2 separate regions of the Homo sapiens genome follow, and region 2 is linked to region 1. The links come from fine-mapping of genetic effects on gene expression. A gene starts in region 1. The other region holds a variant in brackets. All regions are shown on one strand. Distances are from middle to middle. Region 1 holds the start of SUCLG2 (succinate-CoA ligase GDP-forming subunit beta). Region 2 overlaps SUCLG2 (succinate-CoA ligase GDP-forming subunit beta).

Region 1 (4,394 bases):
TAACCATAGGGAGGAGGTAGACAAAATGTCATTCTATGGGTATCTTTGAGAGACCAGTTAAAGTTATTTCTCTAAGCAGAAACTGGGTCTTTTATTTCTGTACAGACAACAGTTTTTCACAAGGCCTGGTGGTATAAAATAGGTCTGGGCCAAGAGTGGCAACAGATTTCTGAGACACTTGGTGAGGATTCTTAAGTATGATGAGAGAAGTGGGCCATGTTTAACTGCAATGTCTGCCACGGGCAAGGGACTATGGAAACGTAATATCAAATCAGTGTACATGAAACAGATCATAGGAAGCACCCAAGAATTTGAAAATAGCAATACTCACCATTTTTATGGACAATTCTAAGATGGTCATAAAGAAAAAAATAAAAATGTGTCAGTGGTGCTAATGACTTGGATGTTATATAGTTACTACTGGCATGCAGATTAATTTGCATGTTGATATAATATATTTTCATGAGGAAGTATATACTCACCAGGAAACAGCATGGTGTAACGGAAACGTAAAGGTAAGCCTTTACTCTGGAATGCCACAAACTCTCACTGTATCGTTGAATATGTCATTGAACTTCTTTAGGCCTCAATTTCTCTACCCATGAAATGAGCTGGCTGGACTAAATGATTGCTAATGTCCATTTCCAGTTCTTGGACACTGTGTACCTTTCTATCTTTAAAAAAACCTACTTTTACCTTCTAAGAATTTACAGAAAAACACATCATCCACAAATATGTAAATCACAGTAACCAGATGGGGCGTGCTAACAGATCTTTTTACCCAGTTTTCTTGACAAACCAAGAGTATCTCTCCCCAACCAGATTTTCTCCTGTGTTGCGTTCAGCCTCTTATTTCTTGGTTAGGGAAGTAGGCTTCACATATTTCAGCTAAACACTCTGCATTTTCAGTTTCTCTGTACAATTCATGAGTTTTCACTGCCCTGGGCCCCATGTTTCTCATCAATTCAAGTCTACACTCATGGTAAGCACCCTAGTTCTTGTTTTTTCTAACACTTAAATAATGAATAGGACTTCATCTCCTAGAGCTATTCTCCTTACTCTATTACAACAGTTATTAGTGAGTTTTAATTAGACAAAACTGCCATTCCTTTTGCTACCTCACTATACTGTCAAGCACCTATTAAGAATATTACAGTAGTAAGTATTAGCACCTTTTAAATTTACATTAACAATAACAGAGAAATGGGGAGGCAGGAAATGAAAGGAGAGGGGTAAAAATAGCTCACAGATGTCATAACCAAAGTTTAGAGGAACTCAAAAAATCATTAATCACTATTTTTTAAATTTTCTAAAAAACTATACTATGCACATCCTGGTTAAAATTGTATGAGTGATAATTTGCCTCTCATCAATTAAAAATGGGGAAATAGGCAAGGTCATTAACTCTGCTGTGGCTGAATCCCAGACTGTGCTTTCTTTAAAAGGGAAGAGAGATAGTCTACGGAGACTAACCAGTTCAGTGGTTGAGTGATTTCTACAAGAGTCATCACCAACTCAAAACTTTCCTGAAGTCCTTCTGACTATTTTAACGCTTGCCATCTGCAGAAGGTAAAAATCTGCTAGAGGCCAAGTTCCAATCGCTATCCAGCCCACCACTGACCCTCTTTGATTTCATTCTCCATCAACAAGGAGGACATGGACAGGGTCAATGGTCTAATGCGTTTTAGTGACAGCCCTGATTTTTCATTGGAAAGAGGAGAAAGATCGTTTCCCATTTTTCTCCTTGACCCACGGATTTGACCAACTCAGGCACATTAAAAGTCTGCAAAAGCAGGTAGCCTGCAGGAAGTTCACCCTAGGGGGTGAGTTCCTAGTTGGGCTGAAACGGGTTTCCAGGCATGTTTATCACGTGGTCTAAACGTGCTCAGGGTTAGTGCCAGAAGTTTGAAAAGCAGAATTAGTAGAGCTGACAATAAAACCTCAGGGCTCCAAAACCCGGTCCAAGAAACTTTTCTTAAACTTGCGTCCAGCGCCTGCTTCAGCGCCTTCGCCATGAGTCTGCGCGGGCAGACAGCGGAGACTCTAGTGCGTTGGGTCGCTCATACCCCGAGGCACCCGGGGCTGCCGCCGCGCCGCCCCTGCCCCACACTGGAGCGGGGTTCCCTGCTGCGCCTGGACCCGGCGCCGCGTCACCTCCCGAAGTGGGGCGCCCGAGGGGCCGCGCAGGGGGTCAGGCGGAGACCAAGAGTAGCAGGGGGCGAGGGAAGCCCGGGCAGGCCGGCGCCGCTGCTGGCGCCCGCAGCTCCTGCCCCCACGCTCACCTGGGACCCGGCCGCCAGGAAGCGGGGCCGCAGCGCTAGGGCTCGCAGAAGCTTCCCGGCCTGCGCTGCTACGGGGGACGCCATCTTAAACAGGAAACTCGGCACGGGGCAGTAGGGCGGGCGCGGGCAGGGGAAGGAGGCGGAGGAGGAGCAGCGGGAGGAGGGGTCAGAGGAGAAGCGGGCGCGGGGAGGAAAAGGAGGAGGAGGCAGAGGCGGTCTGGGCCGGGCCGGGCCTGACCCCTGCGTCCCGGGGGCACAGGCGTTCTTAAGGCTGCAGAGCCCTGGGTCCCCCACCCGGCCCCGGTTCACTTTGAGCGGTCCCAAGGCCTGAGGGCCTACTGTCCAGTCCCCAGGTTATCGTCCTGAGCAAAGACAGACCCCGAGCCCTGCGGTCTTGGGGCTCAAACAGTCCCTGGATGGCCAAACAAGCAAATATTCGCCATGGCAGTGGGTGCTGGAAGGGTGGCTCACGGAGCTGACGCCCTCCGCAGAGAACCGTGGTCTAGTCCTGCGGTCACGAGGCCTATCTGGGACAGTGGTGTTTGAGCTGAGACTTTAACGAATAGAGACAGGTGAGGTTCCTGCAGCCCAGGGCTTCAGGTGAGTCAAGGAGAGGCCATTGGAGGCTCTCCATCCCTTAAGGAGTTGTGGGTGTTTTGTTTTGTTCTATCCTTAACCTAAAATCAATGTAAAGCTGAGAGATGAAGCCGGGTGGGTCGGTTGGGGACTTGGAGAACTTCTCTGTCTAGCTAAATGATTGTAAATGCACCAATCAGCGCTCTGTGTCTAGCTAAAGGTTTGTAAATACACCAGCCAGCCCTCTGTGTCTAGCTAATCAGGTGGGGACTTGGAGAACTTTTCTGTTAGCTAAAGGATTGTAAATGCACCAATCAGTGCTCTGTGTCTGGCTAAAGGTTTGTAAACACACCAATCGGCACTCTGTAAAAACGCACCAATCAGCGCTCTGTGTCTAGCTAAACGTTTGTAAATGCACCAATCAGCACTCTTTAAAAAGGGACCAATCAGCACTCTGTAAAATGGACCAATTGGCACTCTGTAAAATGGACCAATCAGCAGGATGAGGGTGGGGCCAAATAAGGGAATAAAAGCTGGACACCGGCGCCAGTAGTGGCCCCTAGTTGGGGTCTCCTTCCAGGTTGTGGTTGCTTTGTGCTTTTGCTTTTTGCAGTAGCTCTTGCTGCTGTTCACTGTTTGGGTCCGCACTATCCTTATGAGCTATAACACTCACCACAAAGGTTTGCAGTTTCACTCCTGAGGTCAGGGAGACTGCGAACCCACTGGGAGGAATGAACAACTCCGTATGCCCCACCTTCGAGGGCTGTAACACTCACTGCAAAGGTCTGCAGCTTCATTCGTGAAGTCAGCGAGACCACGAACCCACAGGCAGGAACAAACAACTCCGGACGGGCCACCTTTAAGAGCTGTAACACTCACTGTGAAGTCTGCGGCTTCACTCCTGAAGTCAGCGAGACCACGAACCCACCGGAAGGAAGAAACCCCAGATACATTTGAACATCTGCAGGAACAAATTCTGGTCACGCCATCTTTACCGCGAGGGTCTGCAGTTTCATTCTGGAAGTCAGCGAGACGATTAAGAACCCACGGGAAGGAACCAATTCCGGACACAAAGCTATTGGAGGATTTTAAGCCCAGTAATCAGAGTGATAAAAGCAACATTCATTTGGAGCTGTGAACCCCAAATACCTGACACAGGTCTCAATCAATTTAAGAAGTTTATTTGGCCACAGTTAAGGACACGTGCCTGTGACACAGCCTCAGGAGGTCCTGACATGTGCCCAAGGTGTGGTGGAGGACACAGCTTGGTTTTATACATTTTAGGGAGATATGAGACATCAATATATGTAAAATGTACATTGGTTTGGTCCAGAAAAGCGAGACAACTGGAAGCAAGGAGGGGCTTCTAGGTTATGGGTAGATAAGACACAAAGGGTTGCATTCTTTTGGGTTTCTGATTGGCCTTTCCAAAGGAAGCAATCAGCTGTGCGTCTATCTCTGTGAGCAGAGGGATGACTTTGAATAGAATGGGAGGCAGGTTTGCCCTAAGCAGTTCCCACCTTAACTTTTCCCTTT
Region 2 (4,394 bases), 280 kb before region 1:
GACAATAAAACTTAATTTACTAAAATAGGCCCTTGGGCCTTAGTTTGCCAACTCCAGATCTAGAAAAATATGAAAGAACATATCCTTTTCACTTCCCCACATTGTTTCCTTCCCCACTATGATATATATTTTCTCGCTTATTTTAATTTTGAACATATAGTGTATTCTACAAATGATCACAATCAAACATTCAAATATTTACTTTAGTAATGTGAAAAAATAATATTCCTTCTAATTTTTATCAAGGCTTTGCACTTAAAAAACAATATAATTCTTAATGACATTTTTTTTTTCCTCAGAGAGAAAACTGAGAGGAAGAGACATGAAAATAAAATGTAGAAGAATTGTAATTTAATTCTTGGAGGAGGGGATAAAGCAATTAAATCATTTATGTGATTATTTCATAAAAGGATTAATAACAAGCAAATAGCCTTTTATTTTCAAATAAGCTCAAAGCCAAAACAATCAAAAACACTGATTACAACTCAAGATGAGATTTTGGGTGGGGACACAGCCAAACCATATCAGGTAGTTAATATGTTAAATGTAAACTTGTCTGAGTTTTTTATGGCCTATATTTATTGTATAGAAGACCACAAAAATTATTGTAAATGAACCGGGGCCAGATTCAGGAATAGGTTACTGACCTGAAACTGATCACTGGAGTCATATTCAATTTTGGGAGGTGTCTTAGAATTACCAAGAGAAGCTTCTTTCCTTCCTCTCTCCTTCCTCCCTCTTTCTTTCGTTTATTTGCTCATTTATTTTCTCTTTCCCTCTGCTCCCTCTCTCTTTCTCTTCTGAGGATGCTAAATTTGAGAACCTCACATGTAATGGCCAGCAGCCATTATCCACCTGTAAAAATGGCCTGCCTGAGAATAAAACAATTAGAGACAAGCTACGCTAAGGATGCAAAAAGAACAAGCTCTGATGGCTTTGAGCTTATTTGAAAATAAAAGGCTATTTCCTTGTTATTAACCCTTTTATGAAATAATCACAAAAATGATTTAATTGCTTTATCCCCTCCTCCAAATTGGGTTGACTGGAAACATCAATATTTACAAGTGATTCAAACATAGTCCTCTTCAGAGATCAAAAATTTAAAAATGTTGTCTAGTTGACATAATATAGGTTATTTTTTTTACTGCACCAACTAGTGATTAAGCTATCAAAAACCAAAACACAACTAAGAAGACATTGTTAATATTCTTCATTCATTGCATGGGCATTAAGAAAGGATGTAAGACTGATCTATCCAATAGTTTATTTCTCCATGGCAAACATGGCTCTAAACAATAATGACTTTCATACTTTTGTCCACACATAAAATTTATGAGAACAAAGTAAGCTGGTAAAAAAAACAAACAAAATAGTTTGGTCTACTACATATTTATACACTGAAAGGAAAATTAATGGTGGCAATTGAGCCTCACTTAATGGAATGAGTTATACTGGAGTATCTCCCTTTGCGTTACGCAGACTGACATCACAGTTCAACCTGTCAGACATCTGAGATACATTCCTGGGGTTCTGGTTTGTGTATAACTTTTATGGATTCAATAATCTCCTAACACAGAAATGGGTATCTGATAAAGTTGAGTGGAACTGGAATAATCCTGGAATGACCCAAATTATCAAATTTTAGAGGCATACCTAAGACACTAAGACTAGTGTCTTTGTAAAAAAAAAAAATGTTTGAGGAATAAAATTGAGTAAAATGAGAGATACACACAGATCTTACAGCTTACAAAACATAATTTTATTTAAATTTGTATAGATAAAAATCTACCAAAATTTAAACAAAAATTTTATCCAAATCCTTTCCCACAACAAAATTGGACATCATGGAAAAAAAAAACACATTCAAATAAGGTTCCCATCTTTCTACCATAAACTGGTAGATTCTGGGAGGATGAGGAGTAAGAGAGAAACGAGGAGAGAAGATAGTGATACTAAACACAATTTGATCTTCAGTGTTGTCTCATCTTGAAATATCTTAATAACAGAGATTTCCATAAGAATCAGGATTCATTTTTGACACAAAAATGGAAGCTTCCACTCCCAAAATCACAAATAAGGCTTCTGGTTTTCTTTTTAGTGTGAGGTAAACAGTATATTCAATATTAAGGCAAATGGTAAAAACACATGGATGGTATATTAATGCAGATATTCCATTATTAAATATATTTTGGAATACTCACGGATTTTTCAAACATATGTTAGAATTAGAAACCTGTAAAATCTGCAGTAGTGTGTAATAGCTATTTGCTTGAATGTCTTAGCAGTGCCTTTTTAGTAGCTAATATGTTCAGTGTAATCTTATGCCTTTTTAGTAATTAATATATTAAATATAATCTTGTCTGAGTTTTTAAATGGTCTGTTTTTCTTTTTCATTATGTAGGATTAGATGCCCACCAAAATTCTTGTAAATGAAGCAGGACTTGATTTCAAATTCTGTCTATACACACAATATTTGGCCACATAGACCACTCCCCAAAGTCTGCAAAACACTGCCTACTGGGCAGGCTTACAGTGACAGAAAAGTATGAGAACACAA[G/T]ATATTATTTTTATAAAGACCAAAATCAGATTTAGGCTGTCTAGATATCTTATTCCAGAAAACACAGATTTAAGATTTTTCAGTGATTCTTGCCTTCCCCCTCCCCTTTTCTTCCCCAATGAGATAACCATTTCTTTCACAATGATGAACCATCCCTTTTTACGGAAAAATGGCTTTCTTTCTCCATTGGATCAGGACAAAGACATCACTTCTTGGCCACACTGGCCACAGCCTTCTTGGCTGCATCCTCCAGGTCAATGGCTGAAGTAATGGGGAGTCCGCTGTTGTTGAGTATCTTCTGGGCCTCTTGGACGTTGGTTCCTAGAAGGGGGACAGGGAACAATCACTGAATGAAACTAGAGGTGGCGCCTTATGAAGTTTGCACAAGGACACACAAGACTCACCTGTCTACAGCTTTTCACTAGGAAATGAATTAAATATAGGTTCTCATCAAGGTCACTGACAGAAAAGATTATGTGATGAAATTTATCTCAAGCTGTGGTCCAGCTAGAAAAGAAGATGAAAGCAAGGGCTTGCAAGAGGGAAATGAACATATTTTACTGATGGAAGCTGAGTTGTCTGCTGATAATCACAGCCATGTGGATTTAATGCGGTTTTGGCCCACACCAGAAGTCACTTGTCTTAAAGCCCTCTCAGACGTCATCAGGGGTTTGGGCTGTGACCTGATTTGAGAAAGGAAGTTCCGAGAATCTGCCCAGCTATGTCCACAAATCCACTGCTTTGGAGACTCTGGCGCATCCAGCATGTCCATTTCTGCCTTCTCCTCACTCTATAAAATGAAATGGGCTGAGCCCTTCAAAACGGGCAAAGCAGCCTCTGATGGCAATCTCTTGACTGTTCCTGGTGGATCTGGAGTATCTTCTGGCCAAGTCACTTCATTCAAAGGTGTGCTTGGGGACTATTTAACATGAGAACTGCTTTTCTGCCATTTTAGAGTGAACAACTCCTGTAGGAGAAATGTAATAGAATTTAAGTGTCTAATGAAATATCTCATCCTACATCATTTCCTGTGCTTTTATCTAGTTGGCAAGACAGAGCCTATTTATAAACAAAGACCTTGAAATATAGGCCTTGGAGAACTTGCCTTACCACAAAGAGTGCAGATAAAAAGAGGCACTGGGTCAGCACATTTCATATAAAGAGGCAAATGCTGGATTAAATAGAAATGGGTGGATTGAAAAGATGATGCAGCACTGATTCCCCTGGGACCCTGGGTCTACCCAAGCAGCAGTGAAGATGGCCGCTTGGCACTGTGTCTTCACCTTAAGGCTCACCTACTCCTGTTTTTACAGAGGAAGCTGGTGAAAGTCCTCTCTGGAAGGTGAAAGCATAAAATGTGGGAAGCTGCTACCTAAAATCTCCATGCTGGCTCTGCCATGTACTTGTTATGTAGTTTTGGGTAAATCGTTTAACTTCTTTGAGCCTTAACTTTTGTTTCCATACAGAGCACTATCATCCTCGTAATCTTCCCAAGAACTAATATCATTAAGTGCTTATGTATGCCAGGCACAGTGCTAAGTAACTTATACACAGCATATGAAATCTTTACAAAAACTATGAGTAGTCCTATTGTTCCTATTTTACAGATAAGGCAACTGAGGCACAGAGAAGTTAAATAACTTTTCCATGGTCACAGAGGCGGTAAGTGTCAGAGATGGGACTTGAACTGTTCTCTGTAATTATAAACGCTGCATGTTCTAAAGATATGCTAGTCTGCTTACCTACTTGAAAAATGAGGACAGTATAGCTGATGGTATAGATTGTGATGAGAAGCAAATGAAATGAGTGTAAAAGCATTTTTGTAAATGGTGCAGTA

Evidence for each region.
Region 2: its variant is fine-mapped to the expression of SUCLG2 in whole blood (TOPMed, PIP 0.97). The same link has a PIP of 0.9 or more in esophagus mucosa.

The regions. Positions count from the first base shown.
Region 1 is chr3:67,652,221-67,656,614 of GRCh38, forward strand. It overlaps SUCLG2 (succinate-CoA ligase GDP-forming subunit beta), which reads right to left and starts at 2,392. Exons shown (of 11, transcript NM_003848.4): 1 at 2,283-2,392. The coding sequence starts at 2,366. SUCLG2-DT (SUCLG2 divergent transcript) reads left to right here and starts at 2,477. Exons shown (of 7, transcript NR_109992.1): 1 at 2,477-2,882. RefSeq lists a silencer at 2,004-2,683 and an enhancer at 2,199-2,698.
Region 2 is chr3:67,372,982-67,377,375 of GRCh38, forward strand. SUCLG2 (succinate-CoA ligase GDP-forming subunit beta) reads right to left here. Exons shown (of 11, transcript NM_003848.4): 11 at 1,738-2,878. The coding sequence ends at 2,763. Among named protein-coding and RNA genes, the nearest start is that of MIR4272, 150 kb to the left of the region's middle. The variant G/T (reference allele first, on the strand shown) is at 2,558.